Linked DNA regions of Homo sapiens: regions 1 and 2 are each linked to region 3. The links come from fine-mapping of genetic effects on gene expression. A gene starts in region 3. Each other region holds a variant in brackets. All regions are shown on one strand. Distances are from middle to middle. Region 1 overlaps ZFR2 (zinc finger RNA binding protein 2). Region 2 overlaps ZFR2 (zinc finger RNA binding protein 2). Region 3 holds the start of MATK (megakaryocyte-associated tyrosine kinase).

Region 1 (2,500 bases), 46 kb after region 3:
GGTTCAGACGTTGGGGACAGAGAGGTCCCTGGGGCCTGCCCATGGCAGGAGGGCGACTGACCTGGGGGCCAGCGCAGCTGATCTTGCAGATGTCGCAGTAGTGAAGCTGGAGCTGCCTGGGCCCCGCCTTGGGTCTCGGCAGCTTGCTGGGAAGCGGTGGCTTCGAGTCGGCCCTGGGGCTGCTTCCTGAGCCTGCAGGCGCGGGCGGCGGGGGCAGCTGCTGCGGGGGTCCCGGGGGAGGCGGGGGCTGCGCTGGAGGATAGAAAGGGCTGGCAGCGGAGTACACCGACGCGTCATAGTTCGGGTAGCTTGGTGCTGAGCAGCAGAGAAAACAATGAGTCGGGGGGAGATGCTGATTCCACTGAGTTGAAGTGGGGACCGACGGGCAGACCACCTGGGCAAGGAACGCTGGTCTTACCCGTGTAGGCGGTGCAGGTGGGGTTGTAGGAGGGCGGGGGGTAGGAGGTCACGATGGAAGCTGACGACTCGGGCTGGACGCCTGTCGCCGTGGGGTAGGTGTATCCCGAGGACAAGGTGCTCGCTGGCTGTCCGGACTCCACTATGGGCGCCTGCTGTGGGGGCTGAGCGTGGCTGTGACTGCCATGGGGGCTGGGCTGCCCGCAGGCTTCTTGGGTCCCTAGGGGACAGGGACAGGCCCTCTGCAGAGCCAACCCCCACCCCACTGTCCCTCACCTGCAGATGGGCCCTGGACTCAACTGGCTGGAACACGCTAGATGCTTAAGCCAGGACCAGAGGCCAGAGCCTTGGGCCAGGTGCTGGCAGCGACTCGCAGGTTACCTTGTGCCCACCTCTCCTTTCCAGAGCCCGGCTTCTCTCTCCTGCCATGGGGGAGGAGGGCTGTGGGTGCCCTAGACAAGCTCCTCTGCATCTCCAGCTCCATCACCCACAGAGCTCACCTCCTGCCACCCCGGGAAAGCTTCCTTGGAAAAAATGTTAGCTGCATTTTCAGTCCTCACTTTCCTTCATTCATAGGCCCACACCTGGCAGAGATCCCAGGGCCCATCTGAGCAGCCAGCTCTGAGGCTCACCTGCAAATCTAGGATGTTTTTATTATCATTATTATTATTTTTTTTTTTTTGAGTCGGAGTCTTGCTTTGTCACCAGGTTGGAATGCAGTGGCATGATCTCGGCTCACTGCAACCTCCACCTTCCAGGTTCAAGTGATTCTCCTGCCTCAGCCTCCCGAATAGCTGGGATTACAAGCATGCGCCACCCTGCCCGGCTAATTTTTCTATTTTTAGTAGAGATGGGGTTTCACCATGTTGGCCAGGATGGTCTCGATCGCTTGACCTTGTGATCCACCCGCCTCTGCCTCGCAAAGTGCTGGGATTACAGGCGTGAGCTGCTGCACCCGGCCTTTATTTTGTTTTTTTTTTT[T/G]ATTTTTTATTTTTTAGAGACAGGGTCTTGCTCTGCTGCCCAGGCTGGAGTGCAGTGGTGCGATCACAGCTCACTGCAGCTCAGTTCCTGGGCTCAGGCGAACCTCCTACCTCAGCCTCCTGGGTAGCTGGGACTACAGGTGCACACCACCATGCCTGGCTAATTTTTTTGCATTTTTTGTAGAGACGGGGGTCTTACTATGTTGCCCAGGCTGGTCTCGAACTCCTAGGTTCAAGCAATTCTCCCACCTCGGGCCTCCCAAAGTGTTGGGATTACAGGCGTGAGCCACCGTGCCCGGCCTCTAGGATGGTTAACATGTAACTTTCACGGGGTGCAGTGGCTCACGCCTGTAATCCCAGCACTTTGGGAGGCCGAGGCAGGTGGATCACCTGATGTCAGGAGTTCAAGACCAGCCTGGCTAACATAGTGAAACCCCGTTTCTACTAAAAATAGAAAAAAATTAGCCAGGCATGGTGGCGCGTGCCTGCAGTCCCAGCTACTTGGGAGGCTGAGGCAGGAGGATTGTTTGAACCTGGGAGGCAGAGGGTGCAGTGAGCTGAGATCGCACCACTGCACTCCAGCCTGGGCAACAGAGTGAGACTCCGTCTCAAAAAAAAAAAAAAAAAAGAAAAGAAAAGAAAAGATGTAACTTTCAGGCCGGGCATGGTGGCTCACGCCTGTAATCGCAGCACTTTGGGAGGCCAAGGCGGGCGGATCACGAGGTCAGGAGATGGAGACCATCCTGGCTAATACTGTGAAACCCCGTCTCTACTAAAAATACAAAAAATTAGCCGGGCGTGGTTGCAGGCACTTGTAGTCCCAGCTACTCGGGAGGCTGAGGCAGGAGAATGGCTTTAACCTGGGAGGCGAAGCTTGCAGTGAGCCGAGATCGCACCACTGCACTCCAGCCTGGGCAACAGAGCGAGACTCTGTCTAAAAAAAAAAAAAAGTAAGTTTCCCAAGGTTTCCCTGTGCTGCGGGGAGCGTCTCCTCGTTCCCAGCCCCGACCCTGCAGATGGCTCACCTGGCTGGCCGGAGTCTGCGGCTGTCATGCGCCCAGACTGGAGGGCAGCAGACTGGAAGTACGGCCTGTCCTCATAGC
Region 2 (2,500 bases), 36 kb after region 3:
GTCGGGGGACACAGGTCACAAGGCACCTCTGCAGCCGTGTGGTCCAGCGAGTTGGCCGGCAGTGTCCCTGCGTCTACGGAGGCCCTGGAGCCCACGTGTCAGGTCCGCACGCCACTGTGCCCTTGCCCGTCTGCTCTGGAACCCTCTCACGCTCCCACACCAGGACGTGCCCACTGCCCGGGCACCCGTCTCCCCCCACTGCTCGAGAGCTCACACGGAGGAGCTCCGTAATCTGCAGCAGTGGGCGTCTAGGTTCCACGCTGGACCTGCCCTCCCTCACCAGGCCCCCTTGCCAAGACCCGCAGCCGGGCACCTCCTCTCCGCGTGCCAGCGCCGCAGCTGCTCCAGCCGCTCCTCCGCCAGGTGCCGCTGCTTCCTCATGCGCTCCTCCAGGACCTTCCGAGCCCGGCTGCTGGGCTCCGTGGCAATGGGAAGGTCCGGGTTCACTTTCTTCTGGAAAGGACAGGCAAGGCTCTGAGAGTAGGGACCTTGCTTTAGACAGGGATGCCAGGAGGATCTTGGGGTGCAGGGAGAGGCCCAGAGACTAGAACTGTTGGGCTGAAAAATCTCCCAAAGCCTTTTTTTTTTTTTTTTTTTTTTTTTCGAGACAGAGTCTTGCTCTTGTCTCCCAGGCTGGAGTGCAATGGTGTGACCTCGGCTCACTGCAACCTCCGCCTCCCGGGTTCAAGCGATTCTCCTGCCTCAGCCTCCCGAGTAGCTGGGATTACAGGTGCGCACCACCACACCTGGCTAATTTTTGTATTTTTAGTAAAGATTTCACTATGTTGGCCAGGCTGGTCTCGAACTCCTGACCTCAAATGATCCACCCAACTTGGCCTCCCAAAGTGCTGGGATGATAGACGTGAGACACCGCGCCCGGCCGAAGATACACTTTTGAGACGAGGACCAAGACGTTGAAAACCCAGAAAATCACCCCTCCCTCTTAAGTTCGTCGGATCACACGCGCGGAAGAGGCCCGACCA[C/G]AGGCCTCCCAGCGCCCGCCGGGCCCTAGCACAGCCCGGACGGGTGTCGGAGCTCCCCCTGCTGGACGCACCCGGTACTGCAGCCGGTGCCGCCGCCCCCTCACGTGCAGGTCCTTCGCGTTAAGGTCGTTGAAACTGCACTCGCACAGCTTGCAGTGGAAGCGAAGCACTCGCCCTTCGTCGCTGAACACCTGAGACACAGAACAGCCGCACGCGCACCAGGCACGAGGCGGGGTGGGATGTGAGATGCTACCGCTGCCAGGTCGCGGCGGAGCCTTCCTCCTTGCTGCTCATTTTATTTATGTATGTCTTTTTAGAGACAGCGTCTTGCTGTGTCACCCAAGCTGGAGTGGAGTACAGTGGCTCGGTCTTGGCTCACTGCAGCCTCAAACTCCTGGGCTCAAGCGATCCTCCCACCTCAGCCTCCCGAGTAGCTGGGACCACAGGCACACGCCACCATGGGAGGCTGGAGGATTGCTTGAGCCCAAGAGTTCAAGACCAGCCTGGTCAACATAGCGAGACCCCCATCTCTACAAAAAAAATAAAAAATACAAAAATTAGCTGGGAGTGGTGGCTCATGCCTGTAGTCCCAGCTACTCAGGAGACTGAGGTGGGAGGATTGATTGAGCCCAGAAGTTTGAGGTTGCAGTGAGCCATGATGGCACCACTGTGCTCCAGCCTCGGTGACACAGCAAGACCCTTTCTCTTAAAAGAATCCCAGGCCTACAGGCAAGGCAGAGGAAACCCAGCCCTGCCTCTTTGGCACGCACAAGGCCAACCGGGGTCTGAACTGCCGCTGGCCTGGGAGCTGGCAGACCTGGCCCAGGAGCTCGGCTCCACTGCTCACCAGCCTGACCTTGGCAGGTCCCAGGGTCCCGCAGGCCCAGGAAAGGGGCTAGACAGAAGGGCTTCCAACCTCCCGGGGAGCTTTCTACTGCCCAGATCCCTTCCACCTTCCAGACAGACGGCTCCGCAGGGTCCCCTGTTGGGAATGCCTCGGCCTGTCTCTGGCCCTCACGGGGCCATATTCATTTCCTGCTGATACCAAAATCCGGCACCCAAAGTGTCAAGCGGGTCTGCACGGGGTTTTGGTCCATGGAGGTCTGGCCTGTGCAGCTCAGGAACGGGGATGGGTCTGTAAATCTCGCTGGGAGAAGCCGGGTGAGGTCTCGAAGCCTGATCCATGGGAAGGTCCTTCCCTGACCGGGGCACCAGGACTTGACAGCCTCGACTTACCTCCTCCACATATTCCGGGCCCACCGGCTGCGCATCAGAGCAGCCCGCGGGAGCTTCCTTTGAGCCTCCTTGGGTAGGTGCTCCGGGACCCTCTAATTTAGGTTGGGCTGGTTTCCCCCACTGGGGTCTGCAGCCTGCTGCCTGTGGCTCAGGAGGCCCTGAGGGGAAAAACCATGTCACTTATACCCTGTTCCAGGAGAAAGCACTGCAGCTGCAGACCCGCCAGGCGGCATGGGGTGGAGAGCCACCCAGACTGCAGGCTGTGCCATCCCCCTCCCTCC
Region 3 (2,838 bases):
AGGAAGCGGGGGCTCACCTGGGGAGGGGACAGAGTCCAGGTGGGAGCTGGGCTGGGACCCACGGTCCAGTTCCTACCACTTCCAGCCCAGGTCAGGTGGGGGCGATGGCTGGGCAGGCAGAGAGAGCCTCCCCAGAGGCATCCTGGATGGGACCCAGAACTGGCTCCCCAAGCCCCTGTGGGGAAGTGATCTTTACCCGGGGAAGTTCCTCAGCAGAATCACAGCCGTGAAATGCCCGCCAGGAAACCAGAGAGCCTCGCCCCGCCATCGCCCCCAGAGGGAAACTGAGGCAGGTGAGAGGCACACTGAGCAAGTGGTCACAGTCGGGGACGCTGGGAATGGCCTGCCACAGGCCAGTCGGCTGGCACAGGAGGTAGGGAGCTGGGTGCCACTGGACCGAGCCTGGTTCTTCCTGTTTTCTGGTTGGTAGGCAGGGGCAGGGTGGGGAAATAGGGATGAGTCAAGGTCATTCCCAAGAATCTCTGACCGTGGGGTGGAGCTGGGGGCAGGGGCGGGTCCTGTAGCCCTGCTGGGCTCCTCCGGCCACCCGCTGAGCCTCTCTGATCCCCCCCCAAACCCAGGACAGACACACAAAGTCACTCATTGCTGCAGGGGTGGGGGAGCCTCCCTGCCTCCCCCATCTCCCCGACCGCTAGTGGCTGGGAAGTGGGCGGTGCTGGGGGGTGAGTCTCGGCCCCTCCAAGATGCGCCTCCCATGAAATCCTCCAGTCCCACGTGTACTCACACGCATACGGATGCATGCACACGCACAGAAACACACAGGGCTCGGACACAGCTGCGCGCAGACAAGCAAAGGACCACGTCCACGTGGAAACAGGTGTGCGCACACGTCCCCGCGCATCCGCGCGCACAAGCGCTCCACACCTGGGAACGTGCGCACCTGTCCCCCGCCCCCGGCACACACACAGCCGCCCCACACTGGAACACCTGGGCGCCAGCGCCGGGCCACTCGGGCACGCAGGGCGCTACGCAGGGCCGCGCACACGCTTTTCGGCCACACGCGCACAGCCCTCCACGTGGACGCGCGGGTACACACGCCCGGGGCTCGTAGCCGCGCACACCCGCACCCAGGAAACCCCAGCCACCACCACGCGGGGTCCGATCGCCTCTGAGCACCCTCCGCCCCAGCCGCGCACCCGCTGCGCGCCCGGGACGCGCACACTCGCGCACACACCGGCCCTTCCTGCGCACGTCCCGGGCCCACCCCCGCCTAGAGCCCTCGGGGTTTCCCCCCACCCCGGCCTCGGGGTCTCTCCACGTCTCCCCGCCGACGTGCTCACCTGCTCAGGGGGCGCCCCCGAGCCGCGCCCCGCGCCCGCCCCCAGGAGGGCCTCCGCGAGCCGGCTGCACACCCCGAGGCGGTCCCGGCTGCACAACTTGGAGCGAGTTGCTCCGTTTCCTCATTTTGGGGGCGAAGAAGGGTCGGGGAGTGGGGGAAAGCGGGAGGCGCCGCGGCCTGGGAGGCCCCCGCGGGTCCTAGCGCCGGCCGCACTGCGGTCTCCTCCGCGCGCCGCCGCCGCCGCCGGCCCCTCCCCGCCCCGCCTCCGCGGCCCCCGGCGCCTCCCGCGCGCCCCGGGCGGGGTCCCGGGGCGCACGCGGGCTCCACGCCTGGCCCTGACCTGGCCCTGTCGGGCGTGCACCCCCCACCCACCCTGGGAAGCGGGGTTCTTGGAGCGTGGAACGGGCGCCGCCAGTGCGCGCGGCGGGGACCGGGGGTGAGGGAGAGTGAGCTGCCCGTCCGGGGAGATAAGCAAGGCGCCAAGCCCGGACTCCCAGAGGACACTTCGTACTCTGCAATTCCAACTCCCTCAGTGTCGCCCATTTGAGCACCCACCGTCTCAGAGGGCTATTGGTGGTTGACAAAAAAAAAGCTTTCAAAATGTCAGCCGCTATCAATATCATTATCATAATCATCAACATTAAGGGAAAATTGGAGTAACAGAATCATCGGGAACTGTAATCATCCGGATGCAAACTTCTTAGAGCTGCCCTCCTTGGAGGGTAAAAGGGGGGCCTGGGAGTTGGAGGGACCTGGCTCTGCCCGTAGGTAGGAGGTACCCCTTTTCCAGCCGGGATTTCCTCCCCCATATGGAGGGTGGGGGCCCCACCCGCTTTCACCTCACAGAACAGTTTGATCTCACTTGGTCTTGGTGGACAGGGCCCTGGCCCCCAGCGATGGCTTTGTGGTTGGGGTGACCAAAACGCCCAATCTGCTTTCACCCAATGCAGGCCTTTATCTTTATTTTTATTCATTTATTTTTTGAGACAGGGTCTCACTCTATCCCCTGGGCTGGAGTGCAGTGGCGTGATCATAGCTCACTACAGCCTTGACCACCTGGGCTCAAGCCAGCCTCCCGCCTCAGCCTCCCGTGTAGCTGGGACCACAGGGTAATTTTTTTTTTCCCAAATTTTCATAGAGCCATAGAAGGGGTAGCCTCAGGAGGGGGTGAGTTCCCTGTCCTGGGAGGAATCCAAGAATTGGCCACTTTGCCTTTTTTTTTTTTTGAGATGGAGTCTTGCTCTGTTACCCGGGCTGGAGTGCAGTGGCGCTATCTTGGCTCACTGCAACCTCCACCTCCCGGGTTCAAGCAATTCTCCTTCCTCACCCTCCTGAGTAGCTGGGATTACAGGTGCGTGCCACCACGCCCTGCTAACTTTTGTATTTTTATTTTTATTTTTTTGAGATGAAGTCTCACTTTGTTGCCCAGGCTGGTCTTGGACTCCTGGGATCAAGCGATCCTCCCATTTCGGCCTCCCAAAGTGCTGGGATTACAGGCGTGAGCCACCACGCCTTGCACCTTATCATCCTTTCTAAGG

The links. PIP is the estimated chance that this variant, and not a neighbour inherited with it, causes the effect.
Region 1: its variant is fine-mapped to the expression of MATK in whole blood (INTERVAL, PIP 0.97).
Region 2: its variant is fine-mapped to the expression of MATK in whole blood (TOPMed, PIP 0.96).

The regions. Positions count from the first base shown.
Region 1 is chr19:3,831,242-3,833,741 of GRCh38, forward strand. ZFR2 (zinc finger RNA binding protein 2) reads right to left here. Exons shown (of 19, transcript NM_015174.2): 3 at 2,423-2,500; 4 at 419-637; 5 at 62-315. Among named protein-coding and RNA genes, the nearest start is that of ZFR2, 37 kb to the right of the region's middle. RefSeq lists an enhancer at 12-601. The variant T/G (reference allele first, on the strand shown) is at 1,399.
Region 2 is chr19:3,821,027-3,823,526 of GRCh38, forward strand. ZFR2 (zinc finger RNA binding protein 2) reads right to left here. Exons shown (of 19, transcript NM_015174.2): 8 at 2,220-2,377; 9 at 1,055-1,174; 10 at 314-453. Among named protein-coding and RNA genes, the nearest start is that of MATK, 36 kb to the left of the region's middle. RefSeq lists an enhancer at 774-933. The variant C/G (reference allele first, on the strand shown) is at 984.
Region 3 is chr19:3,784,868-3,787,705 of GRCh38, forward strand. It overlaps MATK (megakaryocyte-associated tyrosine kinase), which reads right to left and starts at 1,514. Exons shown (of 14, transcript NM_139355.3): 1 at 1,302-1,514; 2 at 197-419; 3 at 1-17. The coding sequence starts at 268. RefSeq lists enhancers at 1-942, 304-598 and silencers at 304-598, 2,473-2,671.